2 separate regions of the Homo sapiens genome follow, and region 1 is linked to region 2. The links come from fine-mapping of genetic effects on gene expression. A gene starts in region 2. The other region holds a variant in brackets. All regions are shown on one strand. Distances are from middle to middle.

Region 1 (15,356 bases), 20 kb after region 2:
ATGAGAGGGCCCACGTGCCCATTTCCCTGGCACCTCCCATGCCTGGCTGGCCACAGCTGTTGAGCTAAGTGACAAGAGTTTTAGCCACTTCTCATCCATCTTTGTGCCCCCATACCCTGACCCCATTGCACACCCCACATCCCAGAGCGGAGGAGGCCCGGGTGCCACGTCAGAGAAGGTTAGTGTCAGTGCTGGGTTTGATACTGTCTGAGCCAGCACACCATCTGCCATGCCCACCAGAAGTTACATAATCCCTCGGCCGGCTGCCCATTCTTAGAAAACGGGGCAGGCAGGACCAGCAGGGAGTAGAGAGTTAGAGTTTTCTTCTCTGCATTTTGTTCCCTCCCAGCCCACCACATCCCTGGACCAGTCTTCACTCTCTGAGTTGCTCCCACACTGTTCAGAGCCTGAGACGTAAGTGCCAAGGCAGAGAGAAGCTCAAGTTGGAAGGGGACATGGGTCTTGAGGACTGCTTGCCACCGTGCCACACAGACTTGAGGACACCCTGCAGACACTACCTGCTGGCAGCACACCTGGCTGGCCACACCTTGCCAGCCCCTCACACGGCTCCTCTGCTGAGCCTGTGGTGGGTTGAGGAGGACCACTCAAGCTTCTAGGACAAATAGAGTCTCCTCCTCCCCACCCCCTAGTTCCTACAGAGATATTATCTTTCCAAAATCTTATCAGATCATAAGCGTTTTTATTTATTTTTATTTATTTTATTTTTTATTTTTGAGACTGAGTCTTGCTCTATCACCCAGGCTGGAGTGCAGTGGCACCATCTCGGCTCACTGCAATCTCTGCCTCCCAGGTTCAAGTGATTCTCATGCCTCAGCCTCTCAAGTAGCTGGGATTACAGGCGCCCGCCACCACACTCGGCTAATTTTTGTATTTTTAGTAGAGATGGGGTTTCACCAAGTTGGCCAGGCTGGTCTCAAACTCCTGACCTCAAGTGATCCGCTTGCCTCGGCCTCCCAAAGTGCTGGGATTACGGGCATGAGCCACCTCGCCCAGCCCATAAGCATTTTTAATAACTGAATAACAGCCAGATAACACCACCCATGTATCATTAGGGTCTTTGGAATCACTGAGACCCAAGATCCCATCCTGTCTCCTTCATTTGCTGGCTGCATGATGTTTGCCAGGCAACTTCACTCTTGTTAGTCCCGGTTTCCTCATCAGTGAAGTGGGAATCATGAAGCCTGCTTCCCAGAGCTGCCTTAAGGATGGAATCAGATAATACTTGGAGAGGATGGAGAAAGTATTTAGTGATGGTAGCTCTGATCAGCAGCATCCAATTCCATTCTCTCTTTTTAACATCATGACCAGATCTGATTTATTGCAGGAATGCAAGAGTGGTTCCAAATGAATTCGCTAATATTAATAACATGCCATATTAATATCATGTTCCATATTAATGAATCTGAGGAAACAAAATCATATTATTATCTTCATAGATGCTGAACAAAGCTTGGATAAAATACTACACTAAAAGAAATAGGAATTAAGGGATACTTTTCAGATGAGATAGATAGATATATATACCATGGAATACTACTCAGTCATAAAAAGGAATGAAATAATGGCATTCACAGCAACCTGGATGGAGTTGGAGACCATTCTTCTTTTTTTTTTTTTTTCCTTGAAACGGAGTCTTGCTCTGTTGCCCAGGCTGGAGTTCAATGGCACAAAATTGGCTCACTACAACCTCCGCCTCCTGGGTTCAAGCAATTCTCCTGCCTCAGCCTCCCGAGTAGCTGGAATTAGAGGTGTGTGCCACCATGCCCAGCTAATTTTTGTATTTTTAGTAGAGACGGGGTTTCACCATGTTGGCCAGGCTGGTCTCGAACTCCTGACCTCAGGTGATCTGCCCGCCTCAGCCTCTCAAAGTGCTGGGATTACAGGTGTGAGCCATCGCACCCAGCCAGAGACCATTATTCTAAGTGAAGTAACTCAGGAATGGAAAACTAAAAATCATATGTTCTCACTTGTAAGTGGGAGCTAAGCTATGAGGATGCAAAAGCATAAGAATGATATAATGGACTTTAGGGAGATGGGGGAAATGTGGGAGGGGGTGAGGGATAAAAGACTACACATTGGGTACAGTGTGCATTGCTTATGTGATGGGTTCATCAAAATCTCAGAAATCACCACTAAATAACTTATTATCCATGTAACCAAATACCACCTGTTCCCAAAAACTATTGAAACAAAATAAAAATAAAAATAAATTTTGTATACATACATATATACATATATATACATATATACATATATATACACATATACATATATATACATATATATACACATATATACATATATATACACATATATATACACACATATACACACACACACACACACACACACACACACACACACACATACATACCCTAGTCCTAAAGCTGGTATCTTATTTAATGGGGAAACACTAAAGGTACTTTCAGTAAGATCAGTAATAGATACCCTGCTGGTATTCACCTCTGCTAGTATTCACCGCTAGAGGTATTAGCAAATGTGATTAAATGAGAGAAGTCAATTAGAAGCATTAGAAAGGGGTAAAGAAGAAGTAAAACTATTCCTGCCAGATAGTAAAACATACTGGAAAGCCTCTGTAATTAAAACAGTGTGCTTACTGGTGTGTGAATTGGCAAATAGACCAAAGATAATAGTAAGTTCAGAATTAGACCCAAATGTCTACGGAAATACAGTACATAACAAAGGTGGTATCACAGGTCACTGGGGTTAAGACAGACTTTTTAATAAATGGTGCTCGGACTACTGGGTAGCTATGTGGGAAAAGGTGAAATTTGATTCAAGTCTCACACCATACAGAGAGATGAACTCCAAGTGGATTTGGGATCTAGATGTAAACAATGATACAACTACTAAATGAAAACATGGGTAAATTCCTTTTTAAACTTGTGGGTGGGAAAGGCTTTCTAACTATGACTTAAGATCTAGAGGCAATAAAATAAAAAAACTGATCAGTTTTATTACATGAACATTTTTAAATTTTCGACAAAAAAAAAAATCACAGAACACCTTAAACAAAGTCAGAAGACAAAGTACTTGACAAACTGAGAGAAATATTCCTAACATATGCCACAGACGAAGGGCTGATATTTATGGTATATAAAGTGCTTTTAAATATCAAGGAACAAAGGATCAAGCCCTCACAGAAAGGTGGAAGAAAAAGACACGGACAGACAATGCACAAAATAAAATAGAACAATGACCCTCGAACAGACTTACTCAGAATTAGATAAACACATATTGTAAAACAACTACAAGATACCATTTCTCATTTACCAGACGGGAAAACATGAAACACTGTGGCCTCACATTCAGTTGTGGAGGGGGCTTGAGCACCCGAGGGGCACCCACGGGGCCTCCTCTGTGCCCACCTTGGCCATTGTGTATGCATTGTCTCACTCAGTCCTTGCGATGGCTCTGGGAGGAAGGTCTTAGCAGAAGAGCAAACTGGGGCTCAGGAAAGTGAAGTGACCCACCCTAATCTAGCTTTTAGTGTCAGGGCCTCATCTGGGTTCAGCCCTAGCCTTTGGACTCCAGATTCGGTGCTCCTTCCATGAGCCCACCCTACACCCACTCCCCAAGGCAGGGACTGGGCCTTATCCCCTGCGCACCTCCCTCAATGCCCAGGGAGTGCTGGATGCTCTGGAGTTGCCTGTGGAGTGACTGGGCGGTGAGGGAATCGAACTTGGAGCTGCTTTATAAAATGCAGACTCCTCCACCAACGTGATTGTTGTCTCGCTAAAGAGCTGTTGATTGATGGACGGAACTGGCACTTTCCCACAGGCCAGTCAGCCAGCCTCAGTCAGCCCCTTTCCCATTTTAAGGATTGGTCAGAGAGAGTGGGTGTTTGTGGGTGCATGGGGAGCAACAAGCCCCAGGGGCAGATCAGCTGGTCTGCTGGAAAAGAGGCTGAGCCAGACCTCAGCTCCTATAGAGAGCAGAGGAGACCCTGGGAGGATGGTGGGGGCATGATTGCCGGAAGGTCCTGCTCCAAGCCTGAGAATTCTGCTTTCCAGTCAGTAAGTTGTTTATTACACCCTTGACAGTGTCCTCCTCCGCCCCTGCCCCTGGATCCTGAGGAGCCTGCAGAGGGCGGGGCAGGGCCTGCTGAGGGTCTGACCTCTCAAGGGAAAGGGGTCGCTGGAAGCGTGGATCAAGCCATCCACCCTCCTTCCCATCACGGCCCACTGGACCAGAGCGCTTGCCCGAGCTCCCGGAGGCCCTGATCTCTGCTGGAAGGGCAGGCTAAACAGAAATTCCCTGGGACCTTGGGGCATCTCCCTCTCACTTCCCTGGACTTCCTTTCCAAGGCTCCTTCTAGGGAGTTGTTGTGCTTCTGGGGCAGGGCGTGTAGTTCTCAGAGCTTCTTAGGAACCGCAGTCTTGCAGACCCTATAAAGGGGTGCATGAGGGCCCCGTGTCCCTTGGCTTGAGTAAGAGCTGGTGGTGAGAATCAGCCCCATGCCATCTCTGGCTGTCCCACCGTCGCTGGTCAGGGTGATGCCTGTTGCTCCCAGGCACAGAGCGCGGCATGCAGAAACACCCTCTTATTGACTCTGAGCTTCTCAAGAGCCCCACGAAGTCATCAGGGGGAGTGTTTTCACTGCCCTTTTATGGCTGGGCAAACTGAGACAGAGCTACCTCCTGACCTACACTGTTATCATCTGACTTTTCACCCCTACCTCCTCCTCTCTGCTCTTGCCTTGGTTTGGTAGCTGAGAAAGATTAAGAAAAGAAGCATTGTAGACCATTCTAGATAGTCCTTCAAGGACACCCTGTCTTACCTCCATGTTTTCCCTAGGGGAACTCAGCTGTGATTAGGAGGAACCTGAGGGCCCTCACTCTGATTGGTCAGAGTGAGGAGGGGTGCAGGCCTGTTTGGGAGCCAGGAACTTACCTCCACTCCATGGCTCAGCGAGGGAAGCTGCTGACCCCTGAACACACAGAGAAGCCAAGGCCAAGCAGGTTGAAGACAGGCAGTCCCTAGCCTCTAGCCCTCCTGGCTATACCACAAACGTGGACATCAGACTGAGCAGAGCAGGCCAGTGGCCAAGGTCAAAATTGCTTTCAATGTCCTGTCCACCAAGTGACCTGTGGACCTAGCCTGCCTCTCTGGGGAGGGACATTCCAAAGACAACCAGCCACCTTCTCTCTGCCCTCCCCACCTCATCAGGCCTCCGGCCCTGGGTATGTGGGCCTCCCCCCACATCCCTGGAGCCTGGCACAGCCTCCCTTTGGATACTCACCATGGGTGGACAGCTGGGACCAGCCTTCCCCATAAGGGAAATTCTAGATCCCACCAAATTCCAAATTCCATGGCCTTATCTGGCACCATTCTGTCTGGCCTTTCATGGGTTTCCTTGTGTGGGAGGAAGGACCTCCCGCCCACAGAAAGATTATGGGGCAGGGAAGCAGGGAAGTGGGGGTTCCCCACCTTCCCACCACTCAAGCTCCCTGGATGTGTCACAGACTTGTACCATGGCTGGAACACACAGGTTGTTTATATGGAGAGCAGCCAGGAACAGGGATTTGGGGTGTGGCTGGGGGTAAAGACAATGGGCTTGACAGCAGCAAGCCACCTCCATGGTGAAGTCATTGTCCCATTTAACCCTGTCAGAGCAGAGATGCTACAGCAAGGCAAATCACTTCCTCTCTCTGAGCCTCAGTTTCCCTGTCTGTTAAATGAGGGGGTTGGACTAGTGAACCATAGGATTCCTTATATGAAAGCTATATAAGCTGTGCATCGTAAAGTCCCCTTAGCCCAGCAGCCTATAGAATTTCCTGAGGGGCAGAAGGTGCCATTGTGACACCCACTGGCCTCTTCCAAGCATTTCCTGCTGGGCACCCTAAAAATACAGTAGGGGTGAGGTGGGGGTTGGCGAGAGTATGGGCTCGGCCATTGCTAGAGTCGTCATTTCACACATCAGCAAACGTGCCTCTGGAGGGAGTGCTCTCGCACTGAGCTTGGCGTGGCTGGCTCCTTGTCATCCAGGTCTCGGCTCCAATGGCCCCTCCCCAGAGAGTCCTTTCCTGGCCCCCTGCCTCTTTTACTCTTCTTCCAGCACTTCTTGCCATCTGGAATGGTTGTTTGAATACAGACTTATGTGTTGACTCCCCAGCCTGGGAGCGCAGGGCTGTGTACGCTCAGCAATGTACCCTAAATGCTCAGAACGGTGCCCAGCACACGGTGGGCCCTTGTGAACAGGTGCTTAGCAAACGAAAAACCACAATCGTACGTAAAAATCTTAAGAGTTTTTTTTTTTTAATGCACATGCCTGGCCTTTACCCTAAAGGTTCTGGTTTAGGGACTGTGGGCCAGGTTTGGGCATATGAATTTTGACAAAACACCCCAGGTGATTCTGTGGCACACTTATGTTAAAAAGAGACTAGCTTGGTCATTCTCAACCTTAGCTGGACAATGGGATCACCTGGCACCTAGGTCCCACCCAGAGATCCTGACTTAATTGGTCTTGGGTTCTGGCCTGGCCGTCAGGATCTTTAAAAGTCCCCCAGGTGGTCCTCTTGTGTAGCTGAGGTAGAGGACCCTGGAACCTGAGGATCTCCAAGGCCTCTCTGATCCAAAATTCTGCATTCTTGGAAAGCCCTGCAAGGTTAAGCCACTTGTTCCACACAGCAAACTGAATTCTCAAATGGGGAAACCTCCTTGTTGAACCCTCCTGCAAAGATGAAGAAAGGGATACCCTTTTTGACCCTCATAGATGAGTTGAAAGCATTGCCAGAAGCCTTGTGGCCCATCTCCGATGACTGCCCAGGAACTCCCAGGAATGGCCTGTGGCTCTGTGCACAGCCCCCCAGCACCTCCTTTTCCTGGCAAGCCAGCTGAGCTGTGTCAAAACCTATCTCATCTCCTCCTCTGATAGCACACAGTTTTAAATAAGATCTTCATTTACCAGAAGTTCACACCACCGCGTATGTGTTATATGAGAAGTAGCAATCTTGTGTTCATGAGGGAAATGCAGTCAGGGAGGGTGGAGGAGAGCCGATTGCAGAGGGAGTGCACAAGGAGGGAGGAACTCGTGGAACCTGAGCTGGTGGCCCAGCCCCGGCCCCAGCCCCAGCCCTGGCAGTGCCATGCTCCTCTTGGCTCAGCACGGGGCTGGAGGGGGAGGGGCTCCCACTTTGCAAGCTGACCTCAGCTGCTGGAAGGCTTGGAGCAAATGGGCATGTGATGTCACCGTGAGCTCCGCCAGTTGGCAGCCCTGGCCTTGCTTTGGGTCATTTACATGTCTTCAGTTGGTTAAGAAGGAGCTCTTACTGCCGATTTATTAGTTGCCGCCTGCCTAGCCTTGGTAGCTGTGATAAGGAAGGGGTTTAGGGGCCATGGATGGATGCCAGTCCCCCATGGCCATGCTGCCTCACTTCCCAGCACAGCCTGCCATGCAGCATGTCAGTGAATAAACCAATTCCAGTAGGATGGGGCTTGACAGTTTCCAGGGTGTTCTCATGCAGTCCTCCCAACCACTCTGTGAGATGGGCATGATTACCTTGCTCGTGGAGAGGAAGAAACCAAAGCTCAGGGAGCTTGAGTGCCTTGTACACAAAGCTGCGACCTTACTCCAGGATTTCTGCCAGCTGTGTCTGCACCTGATGGGGGACTTGTGGGCAGGTCGCTGTCCCTCTGAATGTGGTCTGCAGTATTTCTACTTCCACAGCACTTGTCCATTCTGATGGCCTAAATGCCAAGAGAACAGGGATCAAGGACCAGTGTGCCCTGTGACCTTGAGCAAGGTTGTTTCTGCCTCAGACCTCAATTTTCCCAAAGGTAAAGCAAGAGTTGGACTGGGTGGTCTTCCAGGAAGGTAGGACCCCTCGGCTTTTCGTTGCAGGTTTTCAAGTGTGTCCTAGCACCGAGGAGATGAGGATCCTGAGGTGGCCCCATCCCGGGGTCCTGAGGTGGCCCCATCACGGGGTCCACAGTACAAGGTCAATGCACTTGTAATAAATATTGAGCCAACCAATGCTGAGCCGCATCCCTAGCCTCTGAATAAATAAAATGTTGCCCAGAATAACAGCCCGGAAGATGCTGGCGGCTTCAGCCAGCTCTCACCTTTGCCTCTCCCACTGGCCAAGCCTGTCACCCGTCCCTATACTCCCTTGTCTCCCCCTTCCCTCTGCCTCCCCACTCCACGGTCCATCACTCTAGCTCCAGAGGTGGCCACCGTCCCAGCCTGGCTTTAGTTTCTAGCTCTGCAGCCTGCATCTCCCTCTCCCAGCCCCTCAGCTGCCACAGCAGTTAATGAGGACCAACCCCTACAGATGGCAGCTGGGAGACAGGCCAGCCAGGTTCTGGTGGGGCTGGGGTGGGGCACAGGGAACTGGAGGTGGGGCACAGGGGAGTGTGCCTTTAATCCCCAGCACCAGACAGAAGCCTTTCCTTCTTTGTCAGGACCCTTGCTGGCATTTCCTCCTGCAGCCCATCCCTGGGAGATGAACTGGTCCAACTCCTGCAGGAGGCCAGCCCACTCTAACTGCTCTTGGCTGAGGCCGCCAGGAGATTAGAAACAGGGTCCACAAAGGAACCTGGTCCCAGGGTGCTCCAGGCCACACAGGCACACTTGATTTGATGCTTCTCTGCCTGATGAGTGTGCAAGTACAGTTA[T/C]ATGTGTTATATGGCTCCCTTCTTTTTACGGTTCAAGTTTCTCAGGGGCAGAGCCGGTTAGGTCAAGTGTGAAGTTACAAAATGTTAGCACTGAAGAGATATCTTCCTCATTTTATAGATGAGGAAATTAACCTCGGGGGTGGGGGGCGGAGATAAGGACACTTGCCCAGGGTCACACAGCCAGGAAGCAGCAAAAGAGCCTGGATTTGGAGCCTGATTAGGGCCTGTGCCCTTGGCCCGCACTTGACACCGCCCCCTCCAGGGGCTTTTGCTGGGGCCCTCACGGAGATGAGGCTTCATTCTTGAGATTCAGGCCTGGCCCAGAGAAGTCCAAGCCAGGGAATCGAAGCTTCTTGGTCCCAAGGTTTATGGACTGCCCTGGGGAAACAGTACCCCATCGGAAAACCTGCTCTCTGCTCTATGAAAAGGACCTTCACCATGTTGTGGGGTTTCACTGAAAAGTATTCTGGGGACCAGCATAAGAAGCAAAGCCCCTTGTATGACCTTCCTTTGGTCTGTCAAGCTGTGTGAGAACCAGCAGGGAGCCCCTGGGGTGGGAAGCTCAAAGCCCCAGGCAGAACACACCTTCCCTTTGCAAGGCACTTTCTAGATGGAATCCCTGGGGAGAAGCCTAATAGCTCAGTGCAAGAGGCGTGTGGGGTTTCATCCCCATTCTACAGGTGAGAGCACCTAGATGCAGCTAGAATACTTGGCCAGAGTCTTGTGGCTAAGACAGTTCCCCAGCCAGTTCCAGGCTGCTGGGTCTGGGGGCCCTGCTGCCTTGTTAGGAACTTGGGAGACTTGGAAACCTGGGCCTCTCTTCCTCTGCTCTATTTGCAGAGGTCCCAGGGTCATTCTGAACACATCAGGGAGACTCATCCTAAAAGCTGGGTTGAGGGGACAGGATTTGGCATCCAGATCCCCTCCCCAGCAGGCCAGATAGATTCCCACTGGTCTCCTGGCCCAGAAGGAGAGGCCAGCCCTTCCCACCCCCAGCGCCCAGGGGGGCCCCTCCTCCCCCGGCCTGGCTGCAATGCCGGGCCCCTATTGCAGGACTCGCTGCCGCTGCCTCTGACTCTGCCTCTGCCTCTGCCTCTGCCTCTGACAGACATCCCGCCCCAGAAGATAAGGATCCTGTCTGGCGCCGGAGTGCTTTTTTTCCTCCTTCTTTCCAAATCTGTTCCCTGATTATCTGCAGACAGCCCCTCGCTAGGGGAGCCACCAGGGAAGGGGCCCAGACCACAGAGAAAGACAGGAGGGGTGGGACTAACAGGCCTGCAGCCACCAGCCCTTCTGAACCCCTCTGGGGGCTTGATGGTCATTTGCTGAGCCCCCACTGTAGCCAGAGCCCTGAACTCAGCAGAGAGCTGAGGACTGGTTTCCCTGGGTGGGACTGACCCACTTCAGCGGGAAGAAGAGGGTATGTGGACTGGAGGTTGTGCCAGCGTGGGCTGGGATGGGGACAGAGGGTGGGGTTCCTTCCGTGGTCAGCGTTCCTCAGCCTTGGGCCTGGAGAGCACCCAGAGGGGATGTGGTAGAGGCTTCAGCCAGCCAGACGGCCACATCCTGTGGGAGACATTGGCCCTTCCCAGGCCAGACGGTGGGAGGACACTTAGGGACTGGTAGGGGGGTCCTAGGGGGTTCCCGGAGCCCAGCCTCCAGCCCTGAGGACTGAGCTTAGAGAATGGCCAGGGCTGGTGTGGCCTCTTGGCCTCAACCTGAAAAGGAAGGGCAGCTCCCCACCAACTGGGCTTCAGACCAGGCACCATTGTGGAATTCCAGCCTTAGAGTGCCCAAGCCGCTGAGAGCCCTAGAGAGCACCTGGTCGCATCTGGGCCATCTATAGACAGAGGGACCCATGTGGAAGGCAAAGGGATCATCCCCACCTCGCCCACTGGCATGTCAGGAGCCTGCAGCATGGGTCCTACTGCCCTGGGAGCTGGGAGCCCTAGTTCAGGTCCACACTCTGCCACTAATACGCTGTGTGACGTTAGGCAAGTTCCTTTCCATCTCTGGGTCTCACTCGTCAACTGTAAACTGAAGGGGCCTTCTGGTCGGGGCAGGAGGGAACAGTGGAGATCTGAGTCCAAAGACCTTTCCAAACTTTGTCAAACTCCTCAGGGTTGTTGTAAGATTCAATGAGATATTGAAGGTGACACCTTGGCTTACAGTAGGTGCCCCATAAGTATGAGTATGTCCAGCCCTTGACAGCTCAGACTAGGGACCTCAGGACTGGGCAAAGCCTGGGCAGTTGAGTTCCCCTCTGTGAGAATGTGCTTGTGTAGCCTTAGAGAAAGACCCTACACCTTCCCTGCCCCCAGCATCCCTTGCCATGCCCGCCCTGCCTCACCTAAAACATGTGGGGGAAGGGAAGCAATGCAAGATCATTTTTTATGGCTTCCTGGCCCTGGAGCCAGAGGGCTGAGGATCGGGTGGTGTGGGCCGGATTCCTGAGCCCCCCTTCAGAGCCAGCTCGTAAATATGAAGCCGGGGCAGGGAGGAGCTGGCTGTTAAGCTGTCAGCAGAGGCCCATTTAGAAAGTCGTAAAGCGTTTCTCAGAGCTCCTCAGAGCTGGGACCCAGGGCCCTCCCGCCCCACACTGACCGGCAGTGGCCTCCTCATTCATGGGTGCTGGGCTTCCCTGCCCGAGCCCCCACTGGAGACTCCCTGGCTCTTGCCATTAGCTGTGCCTTGGTTTCCTCTCTGTGCAAAGGAAGTCTGCTCTGCTTCTCCTCTGGGAGAATGGATGGGGAGGTCCAGTGAAGCCCTCAAGAGGCCAGAGGGACCCTGGTCCTGAGAGCAGTGAACCCCCATATTTATCATTCCCTTCTCTGTGCCTCGCTCCAAGGGGACCCAGAACCTACCCCCAAGGAGCTCACAAAATTCCACTTAGGAATGAGAGAAGATGCATGCCCCTGAAGAGAACGCCCACATTTTCTCCAGCTCAGAGGAGTGAGCTCCACGGCTGGGATGTGGAAGGCTTCCTGGAGGAGGTGGAGGTGTAGATGGGGGCTCCAGGGTATTCAGAGGTTTGGAGAAGAGGCAGGAAGCACAGGTGGTGGGCAAACAGGCCTGCCTGGGCGGAGGGTAGCTAGGATCCCAGGCTGGGTGTGGAATAGCAAAGGCCACAGAGCCTGTGAGCAGAGGCCCACTCTGGGGACCAAGTGCACGTTCCCTAATGACCCCTGTTTGCCTGGTCACCAAGACTCGTGTTTATGTGGAAAAGCTCTGGCAACAGCATGGGTTCAAATACTACCCTCCCTGCTTCCAAACCACGTGTTCCTGGACAGTTTAGCCCATGTGAGCCTCGTCTTCAACCACAAAGTGGAATTAATAGCAATCTACCCCATAACGTCTCCATGAGGTTTAAATGAGATTTTAGAGAGAGAGCCGTCTCACTCAGTGCTTGGGCATTTTTGGAGTTGGTTAGCCTGGGTCTGAAACTCGGCTCTGCCTCTTACTGACCATGTGCCCTTGGGGTCACCTCTTAAGACCTCAGTTCTCTCATCTGTAAAGTGGGGGTAAGAGCAGTGAGACGTCAATAAGTAAATACACGGGAAGTCCTCAGCACAAAGCTGGCAATCCTGAGTGCATTAACTATTATTATGCAAGGTGTTCCTGCAGCACCTAGTGTGAAGGAGGTGCGGTGAAGTCCGTATTGGAAGCCTCCTGCCTCCATCTCCAGCCTGTGGCCTCTATAGGATCGGGAAGGAGGTAGTTTTACTGGGAGCAGAAGTGGTCTTTACTAGGACTTTGTAAGTCCTTTATTCTGTCTCAAGAAATATTTGATGCTCACCTTAAGGCAAGTGGAAATGGTAAAACCTCAGCCAGTCCATTTCCCTCATTGGTGATGAGCCAGGTGAGCCTGGGGGAAGAGGTGTGGTACCTGGAGCTGGGGAAGATGAGGAAGGTGGGGAGAGGCTCCTGTCAGGCAGGTAATTGGGGATCAAGGGGCTTCCTGTGTCTTCCCACAGAAGGGGACGGGAGACAAGGCAGCTTCCACTGAGTCGCCTCATTAACTTCGCCACAAATAGCCCAACAGCCTGTAACTCCCTCAGGCAGAAATCTGGAGCTGTTCAGAAGCTAAATAAATAGGAGTGTGATCATTAAAAACTAGAGGTGCTGGGAGCCCCCCTGCCCTGGGTGGAAAGCCCGTTTCCTGTTGGAAACACCAGTCTCCCTACCATTTGGAGCCACAGGAAGGGGTTGCTCGAAGACCTCAGGGGTAAACTGTTCTGGAGGGTGCAAAGGGTCCTGAAAGTCAGGCAAAATCCCCACAACGCCCACCCTGCCCAGGGCCCACTTCTCCAGAGTGGCTCTTTTCTTCCCAAAGTTTCCAGTGACCCCAAGTTTTGTTGCTCACACTCACTCCTGTTCTCAATCCTGTCACTCAGAATGTCTTGTGGTTTCTGATTAGCGATAGGCCCTGCTGGACGTCTGAGGCCTCGACTCCATGCTTACATTTGCATTTATTTTTTTTTAGTCTCACTCTGTCACCCAGGCTGGAGCTCAGAGTCGTGATCTCAGCTCATTGCCACCTCCACCTCCTGGGTTCAGCTTCCCAAGTAGTTGGGATTACAGGCATGAGCCACCAGGCCCGGCTACTTTTTGTATTTTTAGTAGAGATGGGGTTTCACCATCTTGGCCAGGCTGGTCTTGAACTCCTGACCTCAGGTGATCTGTCTGCCTCAGGCCTCCCAAAGTGCTGGGATTACACACCTGGGCAGCATTTTCACTCTCTTATACATATCCTCAGAAGCTTAATTATTATTACTATTTTAAAGACAGGGTCTTGTTCTGTTATCCAGGCTTGAGTGCAATGGCGCAATCATAGCTCACTGCAGCCTCGACCTCCTGGGCTCAAATGATCTCCCGCCCCAGCCTCCCTAGTAGCTAGGACTACAGGTGTGCACCATCATGCCTGGCTAATCCCTAGAGGCTTTAGACGAGGGAGTTAAGGCTTCTGCCTGCTCAGACTTAGAAATGGAGGCCTGGTAACACCCTGTTCATTTCCCTGCCCTTGAGCTGTCCTGGGATGGTGGAAGAGAGGGTGGGTTCAGATTTGAGTGGCGTGTCTCCCAGCCACCCTAAGCCAACCTCTGCCCCCACAGTGCCAGTGACCCAGGGAAGACTGACTTATCATCTCCCTCAATGTGCCAGAAAACCTCTCAGCTAGTAGATACCTTAGTGTCCAGGGCTTACTTGCGTTGGGATGGCATTGGGGGTAGTGGGGCAGGTTTTAGCAGCGGCCTTGGGAAGGGGAAACATTTTCTATAAAGGAACATTAACAGAGGTGACGCCCCACCCCCAGGAGAACCTCGTTATGAAGAGGGGGTGCCTGAGGTGGCAGGAGGCCCCAGGCACAGGGAGGGAATGGGCCTGAGGGTGGCCATCGAGTTCGGGTGGGTGGGATGAGGGTCGCCCGTCCTGACTGAGCAGTTAGGGGCTCCTCATGCATGTCACTGGCTGATCACTTAACCTCTTGGGCCCTGTTTCCCCATCACTAATAGTTCCAGCCTCATGGGAGGCTGTGCATGTTAGTCAAAAGGTCCATGCCAGGCCCTGCCCAGCGCTGAGGTTAGCTTCTGGTGCTTAGCTGCAGTGGCCCAGTCTGGAGAGCCCACTCCACCCCCAGTCCTCTGTTCAGCAGTGCAAGAGCAGGGCATCCACGGGGGCGGGCAGTGGGCACACACCCCTGCTGGATGGGTGGGAGCCCCAGAGATTATAAGCAGAGCATATGGTGGCTGGTGCCAGAGGGCCCCTGGGTGACCCTGAAGCCCAGATTCCTCCGGTCATCTTCACAGGGTTCCCTCCTGTGATCTGCATGTGAGCACACACACATCTGGATTTGGCAGACCCTGTATATATACTAAACCCCTGGGCCTGCCCTCGGGAGGCTGCCCATTCTGTGAGGGGACTGGCCTTGGGCTCATGGAGAAATAAACAGGTGCCCAGTGTGGGGTGCCTGGAGGCAGGAAAGGCTGGGCTGGGGCTCCAGGCGGGTGAGGGAAGGTGGCATGTTAGCTGCTGTTCCTGCTGAGCCTTCCTTCCCTCCCCACCTACCCCACCCACCCTCACGGTCTCTCCATTCTCCACCTCAGAAGCCCTGCTGCAGGAGGGAGTCCCGGAGATTATGAGCCGCGCTTCTCGTGTGCCAACCTGTGCCCCCTCCCCCCATGGGCATGCTCACTCTTCTGCCATGCGGCCTGCTGCATTTTTTTGGATGACTTGGGCAGCTGTTGGTGTCCGGCCCAAATCTGCATCCTCTGGCTTCTGCCCACTGGCCCAGGCCAGCCACTCACCACCAAGGATACTTCAATTCCTCTTCTCATGTAACCTCTTGAGCGTGATACCCCTTCTCCCAGTAGGGGGGACCCCAGTAACCCCAGGAAGGAAGGCAGGCTCTCAGGGTGGACTAGCCATAGTGGTGATGCCCGTGGCCTGCCTCTGATAGGCACAGGCCGTGGGCACAGGGCCAGCAGGGTGGACACGGGTGATGAGGCCTGGAAGGTCCAAACCCCATCCCTCGCCCTGTCTTCAGACTCCAGCCTCCCAAGGGGCCCTCACGATCGCTTCCTGTTAGGGTCACGGCTGAGCAGAGGCTACCAGCAATGATTTCCTCCCGGCCCAGCAGCTGCCCGCCGCCTGCTCCTCCTCCCCCACTGTCGCTCCACTACTCGGTCTCATTTCTAAAAGAC
Region 2 (15,356 bases):
TACTGAAAATCCAGAACTACAACAAGAAACGTGGGAATTTTGTCTCTTCCAAATTTATTTTTAATTATCTCTCATTTTTAGTTTAAGGAAGTGCTATACCTTCAGTGATTACACTTCTGCCTAAATGAAAGCTTCACAGTATTATAATTCTTGAGCTAGTGTTTTGTAAATAAAGCTGATTTACATATTAATCCCATTGAGTGAATTATTTACTTTATCTTGTACTCTCTGGATAGTATAAATATTGTGTTTAATTTGATTAAGGGTCCATGACACATGAACAATACTGGAAGTATCACATGCACAATGCTGAAATTGAATATATTTGAAATGGCAAAAGACATTTTTATATGTCAAAAGGTGTTTCATTGTAGTTTTAGGACAAATGTGAAGTGGCCTGATGTTTTTATTAGACAAATTAACTTGATATTTACCTGAATACATTTAAATTGGAATGTTTAAAACAATTGAGAGTGAGAAAGTTTAATAGGACTATCTCATTATTTTAAGCCCTGTTAGACTATATGTAGCCTCTGCCCTTCCTCATCCCCCTACACAGATAACTCCCCATCCGTAAGTCCAGGCAGAACCTTGAAAAGGTTGGTAACGTGGACTAGTCATAAGAATGTGCGTCTAAAAGCTCAGGGTCAGTACTTACCAGCTGACCTTAGACAAGTCATTTTCCCTTTTGGAGCTGTGGTTTCCTTTGTCATAGGCCATGATTAACACCAGCCTCTAGGAACAATTGAGATGATCAGTGGGAAATCATGTCATTAAGATAAAAGAACTACACACAGGGGATTTAAAGAGGCAGCGTCTTGTGTTTGTTTAACATATAAGCTTAGAAGCCAACAGCCTAGGTTTGATTCTAGCCTCAGTTTCTAGCTAAGCAGGGAAACCAAGTCTGTTTTCCCATTTTTAAAAGGGATGGACAAAGGGATGATTTCATCACTCAGAAAGTCACAGAATTTAAGACTTATGAATTGTTTTGCTTTTGGAATTTTTCATTTAATATTTTTGGACTTCATTCGACTGTGGATAACTGAAACCATGGAAAGGAAAACCGCAGATAAGGGTGGGGAACTTCTGTACATACTAATGGCTTCTAGTCCTGCTTAAAAGATACCAGCAATGAGAACTACTTTTTAATGGGGAAAATCATAACATCTCCTCATGGGTAATCATGGAGAATGAAGGAGCTAACTCAGACGGAGCTCTTGGCAGGGTTTCTAGCTTGCTATAGTTGCCTGTGCGATGGTTAATATTAGGTGCCAACTTGATTGGATTGAGGGATGCCTAGAAGACTGATATAGCATTGTTTCTGGGGGTATCTGTGAGGGTGTTGCCAGAGGAGATTAACATCTGAGACAGTGGACTGGAAAAGAAAGACCCACTCTCGATGTGGGTGAGCACCATCCAATCAGCTGCCAGTGTGGCCAAAACAAAGCAGGAGGAAGGAGGTGGGATAACCTTACTTGCTGGGTCTTCTAGCTCCCTTCTTTTTCCCCTGTGCTGGATGCTTCCCTTGGCTCCTGCTGCCCTCGGACATCAGACTCCAGATTCTTCAACCTTTGGACTGTGGGACTTGCACCAGTGGCTTGCCGGGGGCTCTCACACCTTTGGCCACAGACTGAAGGCTGCATCATCTGCTTCCCTGGTTTTGAGGCTTTCGGACTCGGACTGAGCTGCTACCAGCTTCTCTCTTCCCCAGCTTGCAGACGGCCTATCATGGGACTTCGTCTTGTGAGCATGTGAGCCTATTCTCCCTATATACATACATATATCCTATGGGTTCCGTCCCTCTGGAGAACCCTGACTAATACACCCAGCATACACTAGCTAGCATGCTTATTTCTTAAGATATTGACCACTCCTGTAGCATCAGTCAGTCCTGTGCTCACTGCTATGTGCTGGGAAGTCCACAGGGACCTTTAACTCACCAAGTCCAAACCCAAATCCACCACCCTCTCCCCAGCCCAGCCATCCTCCTCCTTTCACCATGTCTCTCCTTGCAACCTCTGCCACTCGACCCAGCTCCCCTCCCTTCCTCCATCCCTAAGTACCCACCCTCCCTCAGGCACCAAATCTGGGGAACTCTTTCTCCCTCTGCAGAGTCCCTACTTTCTGCCACCTGAATCCCTGGGCCAAGGCCCCATTGTCCCAGGAGCATGCAGTGGCCACCTTGTTGGCTCCTGCTCAGTCTGCCCTGACATCCAGCTGCAAGGAAGCTCCCATGGCACAGCTCCAATGAGGCCTCTCTCCAGCTCAATCAGCACCCATGACTCCTGTTTCTTACAGAATCAAATCTCATCTCTAGCACTGCAGGCCTTGCCCTTGTGTAGAGATTTTTCCCTTCTTGGCCTTCTGGTGTGCTGTTTGAGGGGCAGTATGAGGATGTGGCCACCTCCTGACCATACCATCACATACATAACTCTAGGCCTTTGCTCACGTGGTTTGCTCTGCCTGGACTCCCTCCTGAGTTCTCCATGTTTAAGGTTTCCTTCTCACTCCTAGGTCTAGCTTCCAGCATCCCCCACTCAGATAAGCCCCCCAATCCCCACCCCCGGCAATGCCAGGGCATGCTAGCTACAGCCTGCTGCATGTGCCAGCTCTGGCTCAGCCTGCCTTTTCTCTGCCCCATAAAGCATAAGCAGGACTGGATACATAATCTCCAGGGCCCAGTATAAAGTGGAAATCAGAGCCCTTTTTTCCAAATTATTAAGAATTATGAAATGGATAAATCCTAGTTGAGGGACATTCTACAAAATACCCAATGAATAATTCTCAAAAGTGTCAAGGTCATCAAAAACAAGGAAAGACTGAGAAACTGTCACAGCCAAGGGGAGCCTGAGGAGTCACAATGACTGTATGCAATGTGGGATCCTGAATGGGATCCTGGAACAGAAAACAGAAGGACATTAGGTAAAAACTAAGGAGATCTGAATGAACTTTAGCACATAATAATGTATCAGTGGTTCATTAATTGTAGTAAAGGTACCATGCTAATGTAAGAGGTTAATAATTAAGGAGACTGGGTGAGGGGCATATGGGAACTTTCTGTACTATATTTGCAATTTTTCTGTAAAACTAAAACTCTTCTAAAATGAAAAGATGGCCTTTTAAACATTTACAACAATAAAAGAATTTTGAGAAGGTGACAGCAGAGGCGATAAATAAGTTATAATGTCCAAGACAGAATTGAGATTTGAACCCGGATCTGCCTGAGCCCAAGGCTTTTGTGACCAACGGCTTGCATTGCCTGAACAGCAGTGAGAAGACCCTGGAGGGGTTGGTGGAAAAGACTGGGTAAGAAGGATGGAAGGAAGAAGGTTGTCACAGTACTTAGTAGAGGTTAAGAGTCCAAGTTTAATGACCCAGGCCACATATAGTATGATTCCATTTATATGAAATGTCCAGAATAGGATAGAAAGTAGATTAGTGGGTGCCAGGGGCTGGGGGAGGGGAGAATGGGGTTAATGGTATGGGGTTTCTTTTGGAGGTGATAAAAATGTTCTCCAATTAGGTAGTGGTGATGGCTGCACAACATTGGGAATATACTAAAAACCACTGGATTGTGCACTTTAAAATGTTTAAAGCGGTACTTTTTTTTTTTTTTTTTTTTTTTTGAGACAGAGTATCACTCTGTCGCCCAGGCTGGAGTGCAGTGGCACGATCTCGGCTCACAGAAAACCTCTGCCTTCTGGGTTCAAGCGATTCTCGTGCCTCGGCCTCCCGAGTAGTTGGGATTAACAGAGCACGATACCATGTCTAGCTAATTTTTGTATTGCTAGTAGGGATGGGGTTTCGCCATGTTGGCCAGGCTGGTCTTGAACTCCTGACCTCAAGTGATCCGCCCGCCTCCGCCTCCCAAAGTGCTGGCATTACAGGCGGGAGCCACTGTGCCCGGCCGAAGAGATTTAGAATAGTACCTGGCATATAGTAAGCACTCAACCTTAGCTCTGATAATATTATTACAAAGAGATGGTAAAGCGTTAAGGACTTCAGCTTTAGGCGCTTCCCTTCTCCAGGGTCCAGGTTTTTGGGGTCCGTTCTGGACCGAACGACTCAGGGGAGGCACCGTGAACTCATTCCCAAGCCTTCCCACTCAAGATCCTGCAAACGGAGTCGTCTGAGTGCCACTTCCCCTGACAACCCGGGACAAGGACTCTGTCAGGGCGGCCCCAGGCGGGGTGGGGCCAGGACAATTCTCCCATCGCCGGAGGAGGGAGACTGGCGGCCACGGGGAGGCGTAAGCGGCAGCGCGCCGCCTGGTGGCACCTTCGCGCACACGGTCCCGACGGAGCGGGAGGCGTCAACCCCAAGCCGGCAGCCACTCCTGCCGGGAGCCCCTACAGCTGCTTTTAAATCGTAATTGTTATCAAATAGGCGGTTTTTATACAGCCAGATTATTGGCCTTATTATTCTTCTTAATACTGTGAAGTAATTATTATTCCTGTTTTACAGTTGAGGAAACTGACGCTGGGAAAGTTTCAGTAACTGGCTTAAGATCCGCCAGCAGGTAAGAGCAGCCCCCAGGTTTAGGGCCACAGCCCTCCAGATCCAGAACTCTTTCCTACACACTCCTGTGGTTTGAGACAAGTGATGGTAGCCGCTGGAAGCATCTGCAGTCCCCACCAAGGGTGAGAACTGGCTCTGGGACTGATTTCAAAGCAGATCTATGCCACAAAGCCTGCCCTACTTTCAGCCTCAGAACCCCCAGACCCCAGGAAATAGAGGGGAGGGGAGGGTGGGGCTCACATAGCAACTCTTAGGCCCTTTGACCATCAACCCCTTTCCCCCCAGCCTTATTGATGTACCCACTCAACCAAGGTTGATTGCATCCCTGCTATGCCAGAAACTGTCTTCAGTGCTAGATATATCATGGGGAACAGGGAACACAGGGCACCTGACTTCAAGCAACTCACTGCTTCGTCCTCATGCTTAACTCCCAGCAGGATGCCTTTGCTGTGAGGCCCATGGCACTCGGTTTGGGAACACCCTGGCAAATCTTAATCCTGCTATCCTAATGTGTCATCCCCCAGGCAGGGACCCTGCCCATTCTTCACCCATCCCGGGGAAAGGTATGGCTCAGGGGGAGTCTGACTCCCTCTGAAGCCCCTTGCCTGGCCTCAACTGACAGCCTGCACTCTTGAGATGCCAGGGCTGGAGAGGAACCACATCTGCAACTGCTCAGCTGCAGGTGGCTAGAGAAGGCTCAGAGACTTGGTACAGGAGCAGGGGCACAGAGCAGTTACAGAGAGATTCCCAACATGCAAAATCCCATGCCCTGATGCTGGAGTCCTGGAGGGAGAGCAGGGCCCGGGACCTCCCAAGAGTATATTTCAAGAGTTGAGAGAGTGGTTAGGCTGAGAAGGGAAGTGGGGCAGGGACTGGCAGGAGAGGGGGTAATGTCTTCCTTTTGCTTGCCCCCATCTCCAGTCCCCCTTCTCTCCACCCAGGAATTAAAGCCGTGAAACCTGATACTTGGACTAGAAGGGCCTGCTGGGTACACTTTACCACCTAAACAGCAAAGTTCCAAGGGGTGGAACTTTTTAGAAAAATCTCCAATACCCCACTGGCCTGAAGGAGAGAGAGAAAGAGGTTGGGGAGAGAGAGAGAACATGCTGTGGTCTCTGCATGCTGCCCGTCTCTGCTGAGGTCCCTGCTGAGCTCTCCAGCACAGGCACAACCTTGACCATGTGCCTGCATCCAGGGGATGACCGTCAGATGTGGGTCTTGGCACAGGCGTGCCTGTATGTGTTTCCTGGCAGTAGTTAAGTATCCAAATATCTATTTGTCTTGGGAGTCATCTGCCTATTTGTGTTTTTAGTTGTGTGCGCCTGTGTGTTTGCTTTTTTTAGGCATACATCTTTGGTATGTGGGTGTCTCTGGAGTCGGGTGCCTATTTGTAGGTGTGATGTTTATGGGAGGTGAAACATTGCACCTGTTGTCTTTGTTGTATGTTTTCGTGTGTGTACCTTTGCAGGTGTGTATGGGTGGGTAGTTGTGTGTGTGCATGTGTATTTGCAAGGTGGAGTTGGTTTGGGTGTGCTGAGCTGTTGACTGTCTCATCCACTGCCCTTGCTAGGGCTGTCAGAGGCCAAGCTAAGCAACCTACCTTTGCCCACAGCAGCCTTTCTCAATTGATGGAAGTTCTTCCCCCAGGGAGTCCCAGTCCACCTGTTGCCACCCTCCTGATGCTGGGTGCCCAGTCAGAGAGGGTTAGGGAGATGTGCTGATGGCATGCACGACCTCCCCTAGATACTCCAAGACCCCGGCTTGTGAGGGGAGTGTGTGTGGAGAGGGTACTAGTCCTGCCTTCACCTCACCTCTGGGGAAACAGCTAGGACAGTCCCCTTCGCACAGCCCAATCCAGCCCCAGGGAAGGTGTTCAAGTGAGGCTCCCCCGTTTAGAGGGTTTCTTTCCAATCCCATCTCCCCCATCCCCTTTGCTCAGTCACTCAGTCACTCCAAGCAGTGTGATCTCCGGCAGGTGGCTTTACACCTCTGTGCCTCAGGTCCTTCATCTGTAAAATGGGATGTAAATGGTGCTTACTTCAGAGGGTTGTGAGAATTAACTGACATGATGCATACAGAGTGCTTAGCCCTGTGCCTGGCACAGGGAAGGTCTTTGCCTATGTTAGCTGATCCGCTCGTTCTGATCTCTCTGGGTTTCAATCCCAAGACACTGCCCATCCTTCAAACCTCACCTGTCCCCACGTGCTCCTTGGACCACCTTTGGGTGGTCAGGACTTTCCCCCTGGAATCAGACTGGCTGGGAGGGGAGAATCTTGGAAAGAGATTATTGACACTTGCACTGCAATTTCCACACAAGTTTTAAAATTTAATTCTATACCCCCTTATGAAATAGTTATCCTTTTCCTCCATTTTACAGATGATGATGAAGGGAGCAATAGAATTGTTAAGTAACTTGTTCAAGGTCACACAGTAAATAAGGGGCAGAGTCCAAGTTTACACTGAGCCAAAAATGGCTGTCCCACTGTCAGGTAGGAGGCTAGTTTACAACAACGCAGGATCAGAGTGCTGGAGGGGTTTCCAGGGGTCTGGTTAACAGTTCTGCCGGAGATCATACAGACAAGCAGAGCCAGCCAGGATGATCCTAATCTATACCCAGCTTCATATCGCTGTAAGCCCCCGCGTAACCAGGACTTGGGTGTTCTCATTTTGGGAGCCTTTTTTTTGGAAAGACCCCCACATGTGGAAGGCAGAGCGCATACTACAGACAGGGGAGCCAAAAGTGAGAGTCCTATGTTTAATCAGAGGAGAAAGCTGACATGGCCAAGCCAAATGAAGGCGCAAAGCCAGATTTCCTTAATTTGGGGGAGCGAAAATTGGGCCGCCTCCACGTCCAGCCATTCTCCAGCGGCCGGGTTTTTCAAAACGCTGCGCCCAGCGTCTCGCGAGGACCCTCCCCCCGGGTCCCCCAGCTCTGCCGCGGCCGCGCCCAGATGGCCGTCGGATCCCCCCTCAAGGTCCCCCTGTCGGCTCCGCCCTCGGTCGCCCAGGCCCCGCCCCGGCCGCGCGCGGTCCCCTCGGTTGGCGAACTCACTCCGGCGAGCGAGCGGCGGCGCTCGGCATTGTGGCAGGCGGCTGGGGCCGGCTAGGGCGCCGGAGCCGCACGCAGCCGCGGGGCTCCGAGAGGCGCGCACTGGGGCTGGGACTGCGCGGCGCCGCCGCTGCGAGCGCCACTGAGCGGTCGCGCAACTTCGGAGGCACAGCGCCGGAGCCAGGCGAGCGCTCAGAGACCCGGAGCCAGAGGGGCGCGCCGGAGCCTCGTTCGAGAGCCGGCGCCAGGCACCCACCGCGCTCCGAGTGCCAGGCGGCCCTCCGCGCAGCGTGGCTTCCGCTGCCCCCACGGAAGGCACGGGCTGGCGCTGCCGGGCGCCGGGGAGGACGGCGAGGAGGAGGCGGCGGCGGCGGAGACGGCGGCGGCGAGACTGGGGCCAGGGAGACAGCCCTGGGGGAGAGGCGCCCGAACCAGGCCGCGGGAGCATGGGGGCCCGGAGCGGAGCTCGGGGCGCGCTGCTGCTGGCACTGCTGCTCTGCTGGGACCCGAGGCTGAGCCAAGCAGGTAGGAAGCGATCGGGTCTGGGGGCGCGGGGCTAGGGGACCCTTGCGCCTCACTCTGTCCTGAAGTTGAGGTGGTCTTTCGTCGCATCGATGCGCGCAGGAAAAGCGGCAAGGGCGCCCAAGTTAGAATGTAGATTTTACTGCCTCCCAAAGTGGGCAATGGCGCATCCACATCGCGGGAGCGGGGAGCAGGGAAGGGGCTTCACAGTAAGCTGAAAGGTCCCTGCTCGCTCCTGAAAGGGATCCCTTCTTCTCCCTGGAAGGGGTGTAGGAGTCAGGGTCTGAGTCTCCGGGAGGATCCGCCTCCTGGGGACGCCCGGCTCTCCGCGCGCCTGGCATCCGCCCCGAAAAAGAACATTGGCTACATAAGCAAGGTGTGCGCTCGCTGCCGTACGCCGGTAACTTACTAGTCTGGTCCCGGCTCGCCTAGGCTCTTACGCGCTATAGGGACAGCAATCTGCAGACTAGAGGGAGAGAGCGAAAAGACCTGCTGAACACAGGAAGCGCTTCGGTAGCCTCGGCAGGCCGGCTTGCAGGGCTCCTGAAGCGGGGAGGGCTAAGTCTTGCACACATAGCTTTCCCCGAGATCGCTGGGCCCGCAGGTCTGGAAGAATTATTATTATTATTATTATTATTATTATTATTAATTTTCTGAGTGTTGGAGAGTGTGTGTGTGTGTGTGTGTGTGTGTGTGTGTGTTGGATGCGGGTAGGGGTTCTTAGCGATCCTGCGGAGTTTCCTTTTAAATTGGTCACTGACATTCTCGCTGTCCGGGGAACAGACTAGGTGCGCTCTCCTTGGTACAGCGCCCGCTCTGGACCCACCAAGATGACTTCAGCGAACTGGTGGGCTCCGAAATAAAGTCCCTAACCCTCCTCTCTCGCCGTGGATGAATACGTTTCTCGCTCGTCCTGTAGCTGGACCCGGCGTCGCTGGCTGGGCTGCGTCTTCTCGGGGAGGCTGTGGACTGAATGGAGCCAGCCTCTCTCTGGTACCCGAACCCAAGCAAGTGGGCTGGCCACGGCTGCCGGGCGGCTCGGCTCCGGAGCCAGGTGGGGACGGGGCCTCCTGCACGGAGTCCTCTCTGAGTTGAGGCTGAGAATGGAGCAGGAAAACTGGAGCAGAAAGTGGACGAGATGACGCAGCCCTCCCCACCTCCTACCTCCTGCTGCGAAGTTGACATCCGCCCTTCCCCCCTCCATAGCCAAAGATTCCTCATTCTGGAATTAGTGATTCCCACGGCCAGGAGTGAGGGCTTGGCTTTAGCACATTCCCCACTTTTTTTTTTTTTTCTGGTGCAAGTCCTGTGCAGTAGAGTTACAACACTCAACCATTTGATCCAAGTTAATTATGATTTGGGCAGACTCTGGTATTTAAAGCAGTGTTTTGAAGTTGGAAGGTAATGATGGGGATGGGGAAGGCAGGCTGCTGAATGTCCAACCTTGTTTTAAAGGGTGCAGTTAGACGTGGGAGGTGCTTGGTTGGGGTGCTGGTTTCTGGTTGGAGGGGGTTTGAGGAGATGATTGAAGGGTAGGGTGAAGTCTCTGTAAATGGCACATGGGCAGGGTTGTGTCTTGGGAAGCTGCTTTTGTACCAGCAGGACAGTGGGATCAGGAATAAATACTTAGGTTACCAGGAATGAGGGGCTGCTGTAGGAGAAAGACAAGACTGGTTGGCCTATAGTTCTCTGGGTGGGTGGGCTTGGCCAAGAAGGCTGGGGGTGGCCTGCATTTCCTGCTTAACAAAGCATCCAGCCCCCACCTTCCCCAGAAGAAACCCCAGGCCCAGGGCTTTGATGGATTTGGGCACGAATGGTGCCCAGTCAGAAATGGCCTCTAATACCCGGCTTTGATTTCTCACCAGCGAGCAGAAGCGGTGTTGGAATTGTGCTCATTACTTAGTGCGGCAGTAGCTGCCTGCCCACCAGCCTGGAGAGGGGCCAACTGGTGGGGTCGGCCTGCAGCCTTCTCATTGCCCAGAATGTGTGGCCCTTAGAAACCTGCCTTCAGGAGGGAGAACATGTCCCTTCCTCCCACACAATCTTGTTTTTCTCTAATGCCACAGGCACAGAGCATCATTCTTTCAGAATGTTCTTTGGGTTTTTCCATTGGATCCTTCACAAGCTCCATTTCACTGATGGGGAAAATCAAGGCCAGAGTGTTGGCTTTCTCCAAATCTTGCCTTCACTTGGCCACAGATTGAAGACATGTGAAGGGCTCCTGTCCAATAGCCAGACTGATTCAAGCCCAGCAGACCCTCCCTCCTATTCTTATCCACCCACCCCTCTGCCATGAGACTCATAACAGACTGAGGCAGGCGAGGCTCTCTCTGCAAAGAGGGATCTTTACTGGGGGTGTCCAAGCTCCCCTCAAGTGGCAGGCACCTCTCTCTCCTTTTCCCCACCCCACCCCATCCCTGGTGAATATGGGAATGAGCTCCCTTTACAGCACTGAGAATATTTTTAAGCTGTAAAGTCTGATGCTGGAGAAATCAAAACTGGAACCATAAAACCCCAGACCCTTAGAAGGTAATGTCAGCAAGTGACTAGCCAGAAAAGGCCACTTCAAAAGCTCTGGTTGGCCCTGGAAATCTCCTCCCACCCCACCTTTCAGCCCTTCCTGGAGCTTTTAATGAGCCTTTCCATGGCCTCTGGCTGGGATGGTTGAGAAGGAGTCGAGGTGTCAAGATAATACTTCTTTTTAAGGTGCAATTAAAATCAGAGTTTTTGTAGTGTCTCTGCTTGGTGTGTGTGTGTGTGTGTGTGTGTGTGTGTGTGTGTGCTCGCGTGCATGCGCCTGTGCACACACAATGATAGCCTGTCCTTGTCTCCCTCTGCACTCACTGTAGCAAACACCCATCTCACTTAAACAAATGGAAAATCAAGTGTCTTAATGGGTTTTCTCATTAAAGTGAAAGTACCACTGCAGGGGAGGAATTTCTCCTGTAATCTCTCTCCTCCACCTCTCTCCCCTCCCCCACAAACAGGGAATTCTGTAGGATAAAACAGTTCCCCTCTTTTCCAATCCATTTATTTAACTGTTGACACTTTGGGACAGGCCAACTTGCCCAAGGTCACACTGGGACTCACCGGTAGCGCCAGGACTTGAACTGAGGCCTCACAACCTCAATCTAGTGCTTCTAGCTCCTTCATTCCATCTGGGCTGGAGACCCACCATCATGGGTGTGGGCTTGAGACTCTGAAATTGAGGCACCACTTAAGGCAGGCAGCTAAAGATAAGATCGCTTTGATGGCTGCTTTAGACTGGAACTCATGGCAGGATGGAGGAAAGAGGTTGAGAGTTGGAAGGGTGAAGAGGTGTTCCAGGAGAGGGGGAACAGGGCAGAGCCAAAGGTCAGGAGTGAAGCTCTGAGACCAGGCAAGTGCCCAAAGGTGGCTCCCCCAACCCCCAGCATTGGCCTCCTGAGCAACTGCCCTGACCTGGGGAAGGGAGACAGGTCACAAGCCAAGCTCCCTTGGGCTGCATGGCCAAATAAACATTAGCATTTTATAGCTCTGCACCCATTTGTAGAGTTGGGGACAGAATATGTTTTTACTTTTTACTTATATTCAAAGCTTTAGGAGCCAGTGCCCTCCCCCACCTTTGTTGTTGAGTTTCTCCTGGACCGCAGGTCTAGTGACCCTTTTCCTGGGTGTCAGGCTTAAGACGAGGTCTGCCTCCTACGCCCCATTCCCTGAGCCACAGAGGTTTTCTAAGGAGGTTTGTGGGCTGCCTAAGACTTTGGGGATGGGCTGGGGGGAGATGGATCATTTCCATTCCAAGTGCTCTCGGACCAGGTTAGTGATTCTGAATAGACAGTGCTGGTACCTCCCTCCCCCAGGGCCTGCAGGCAGCCCGTCTTTTGACCCTCAGAGTTGGGGTTGGGTGGAAAGGAGACAGTTTGGAGGCCACTGCCGCCTTCAGGAAAGGGCAGAGGGGGCTGGGTCATAGGCTGGGACTTGGGGGTGGGAGCCTGGGCCCAGGGAAACTGCTGCCTGGGCAGATGGCCCCCAGAGGGTAGGGAGGAGAAAGCCGGCGCTCAGGCCAGAGCTGGCGCTTCTCTTGGCGTCCTCCTCCTTCTCCTCCTCACCAGTTTCCTAAACAGCTTCCACAAATAGAGTCATTAAAGCTGTGAAGGCAAAATGAAACCAAACAAGTGCGTTCTGTGCTTTTCTGTTTCTTATTTTTTTAAGGAAATTAAAAATACCGTAATTAGAATAATACAAGGAGAGAACACTTTGCGGAAGGCCTAGGGTAAGGGCACTTCCCACCCACTGGGTTGGCTCAAGAGGTTGGGACTGGGGCGCCACCTCCCGCCCCCTTAGGGTCTGCGATCCGCCGGGGGCGCCGCGGGCTTTTCCGCCGGCTCCATGCATTTCCCTGAGGCAGGATCTTTTTGGGGGAAGCTGGCATCCCGGCGCTGGCCTCGGCCCCCGACTGGGAGTTGGGTGGCGCTTGATTGGAACTCCGGCCCGGAGCCGCCTCAGCCGCTGCGCCCCCGCGGGCAGACAAGCCCGGGCGGAGCGCGCTAAGCCACAGGTCCCCGCGGCGTTCCTCCCGGTCTTCGGGGATGCTAATGGCAGCGAAAATATTTGCTGAAGTGCAGGCATAAATCAGCCGCCTCCCCGCTCCCCCACCCCCACCCCTTTTGTTTCCTCTTCCTTCTCTCCAAAAGCGCTGGGCTGCTGGGCGCCAGAATTTACCTTTTCCATCTTAGCGGCCTGATTAGCATCGCCGCCGCTTGTGGGGCTGGATTCTACCCTCTCCTGCGTCCCCCACCCCCAGTCCCCATCTCCACCTCCCTCCCCAGCCGAGCTAAATCGGTCTGCGGAGCCCCGGGAGCTCTAACGCCACCGCCTAGCGAGTGAGTGCACGGAGCCGCCCTCCTTCTCACCTCCCAGAACAGGCTGCCCCCAGTGCTTGCAACTTACCCCTTCGCGGCGCTGCACGGCTCGGCTCACTTCTCCAAGAAGGCAGGCTTGTGGGTGTGAGAGTATGTATTAAGGAGTGTGTGGGGGGTGAGAATGTGTATTAAGCAGGTGGGCGGAGGTGGGAGTTTGCAGGGAGGGGAGGGTGGGTGTGGTGTTGCACTGGGGTGTCAGGTGTGTGTGGGGGCGAGGCATGGACTGGGTGTGTGCCGGAGGATGGATGTGTGTTTGAGGAGGGTTGTGCCTTTTGTAACTCAGGAGGTGTGATGTATAGGCTGTGTCTGTGTTTGGGTGTGTGTGGGGTGGGCAATGTCACATGGGCACACTTGTGGTGTGTTTGTGTATAAATAGGTATGTGTAATGTGGAGACAGTGAGTCACCACCAGGCATGGGAAGCTCCATCCATTGTATTCCGTTGGGGATTCCACTTCAGGATGGGACCCAGGCCATTTGCCCATCAGCACTTAAGAGACCTCATTTTGCCCCACACCTGCACTGTGAGCAGGGTTTGGCCTGAGTGCCAGGTTCTGCTGTTGGAAGGGCAGAGGACAGCTTCCCCTGCTGAGTGCAGATGGGATAGGCCTGCCTGCAGGTGGGTCCTGGTGCTCCAGGGGGAGGAAGGTTGGCAGAGATGGACCCTAAGCCAGCCCAGCAGCTTGGGCTACTGCCCCCAGGAAGATCAGAGTCCCAGACCTGGAGTCTTCTGCAGTCAACTCCCAGCTTCCCCAGAGCATGGGAGCGGCTGTGGTTTGGAGATCTGCTCTCTGACCTGGGTCAGCTTATGCTTCAGCCTGTCTCCCCCAAAGGGAGTGAGTTCTCCTCTAGAGTTTGCTGGAGAAGGGGCCAGCAGAGCTTGAGTGGGTGGGATCCCCAGTGGAGAACCCCATCTCAGGCTGACGTGGCTGGGGCCTGGGACTCTCAGCGGTAGCAATTTAAAGAGGACAGACACACCCACACACATGCTGGACTCCACTGTCGTTACAACTTTCTTGGTCACAGAAGCGCTTACCTGCTTTCCCAGGGCTGTCCACAGGAAGGACTTCCATCACTTCAACTCTAGGATAAGATGGACTGTTCTGGAGCAGGGAGGCCTATAGGAAAATCACAGTCCCTCGCCCCACCCTGGTGTGCATGTTGCTTTACAGTTTACAAAACCCTTTTATATGTGCAGTCTCACTTTGTCCTTGTAAGAACTCACCGAGAAGGTGGAAGCTCTCACTTAGAAGGCTGAAGAGACAGGACTGGGACCCAGGTTTGTATTAGTCAGGGTTCTCTAGAGGGAAAGAACTAATATATATATAAAGGAGAGTTTAGTAAGTATTAACTCACACGATCACAAGGTCCCACAATAGGCCTTCTGCTGGCTGAGGAGCAAGGAGAGCCAGTCCGAGTTCCAAAACCGAAGAACTTCTAGTCTGATGTTCGAGGGCAGAAAGCATCCAGCACGGGAGAAAGATGTAGGCTGGGAGGCTAGGCCAGTCTCTCTTTTCACGTTTTTCTGTCTGCTTATATTCTAGCCCTGCTGGCAGCTGATTAGATTGTGCCCACCCAGATTAAGGGTGGGCCTGCCTTTCCCAGCCCACTGACTCAAATGTTAATCTCCTTTGGCAACACCCTCACAGACACACCCAGGATCAATACTTTGCATCCTTCCATCCAATCAAGTTGACACTCAGTATTAACCATCACAAGGTCAGAACTCCTAAGCAGCCCTGGCCACAGCCCTCGAGGAGGTGCTGTCTGTAAGTGTTGCTGATGTCCACTCTAGAAATGTTAAGTGGCATTCAGAGCATTGCAGATGCCATGTGAGGGTGACAGATGATATGCAGGGAAGAGCATAGCAGAGCCAAGGTTTTAAGGCATGGGGCTTCCTGGGGCAGGTGATGAGTGCCAGACCTTGACTGTCCTTTTCCAGTTCTTCTGAGAGCATGTCCTGAAGAGAGGATGGGATGGGGGCTAGCTAGCTGGGTATGTGGGCAGGGGTGCCAGCCGACCTCTCCTTACTCTTGGGAAATTTGCCCCTGTTAGCATCTGCTGTGTTCACTATCTTGAGGTGGACACCAATCCTTGGAGAACAAACCCTCTGGCCCCATTCCACCTCCCAGCATCCCAGGTTCTACTGAATGTGTGCGCTTGGGTCACGAACCCTCTCAGCTGCTTCTGACTCTGTGGGCTAGGACCATGGCAGGCCCTGGAGGCAAAAGGCCTTCTTCTTGGATCTCTCTGTATGGCTCCCAAAGGTGGAACGAGCCCAGAAAATACTTTCTAAGCACTGGTAGGGATCATATTGGGGGTGGAGACATGGGGAGGTATCTCCCTACTTTCTGCCCTGCCCCCA

Evidence for each region. PIP is the estimated chance that this variant, and not a neighbour inherited with it, causes the effect.
Region 1: its variant is fine-mapped to the expression of UNC5B in whole blood (INTERVAL, PIP above 0.99). The same link has a PIP of 0.9 or more in monocytes after LPS.

Annotation. Positions count from the first base shown.
Region 1 is chr10:71,225,359-71,240,714 of GRCh38, forward strand. The region is part of intron 1 of UNC5B (unc-5 netrin receptor B); the gene reads left to right. It overlaps LOC112268061 (a long non-coding RNA gene), which reads left to right. Exons shown (of 2, transcript XR_002957083.2): 1 at 1-15,356. Among named protein-coding and RNA genes, the nearest start is that of UNC5B-AS1, 15 kb to the left of the region's middle. RefSeq lists enhancers at 7,138-7,648, 7,694-8,447, 9,956-10,707, 10,716-11,463, 11,464-12,210. The variant T/C (reference allele first, on the strand shown) is at 8,659.
Region 2 is chr10:71,204,973-71,220,328 of GRCh38, forward strand. It overlaps UNC5B (unc-5 netrin receptor B), which reads left to right and starts at 7,598. Exons shown (of 17, transcript NM_170744.5): 1 at 7,598-8,092. The coding sequence starts at 8,014. UNC5B-AS1 (UNC5B antisense RNA 1) reads right to left here and starts at 13,256. Exons shown (of 2, transcript NR_038453.1): 1 at 13,022-13,256; 2 at 12,252-12,663. It overlaps LOC112268061 (a long non-coding RNA gene), which reads left to right and starts at 14,636. Exons shown (of 2, transcript XR_002957083.2): 1 at 14,636-15,356. RefSeq lists silencers at 4,299-4,358, 7,499-7,758 and enhancers at 7,360-7,654, 10,625-11,244.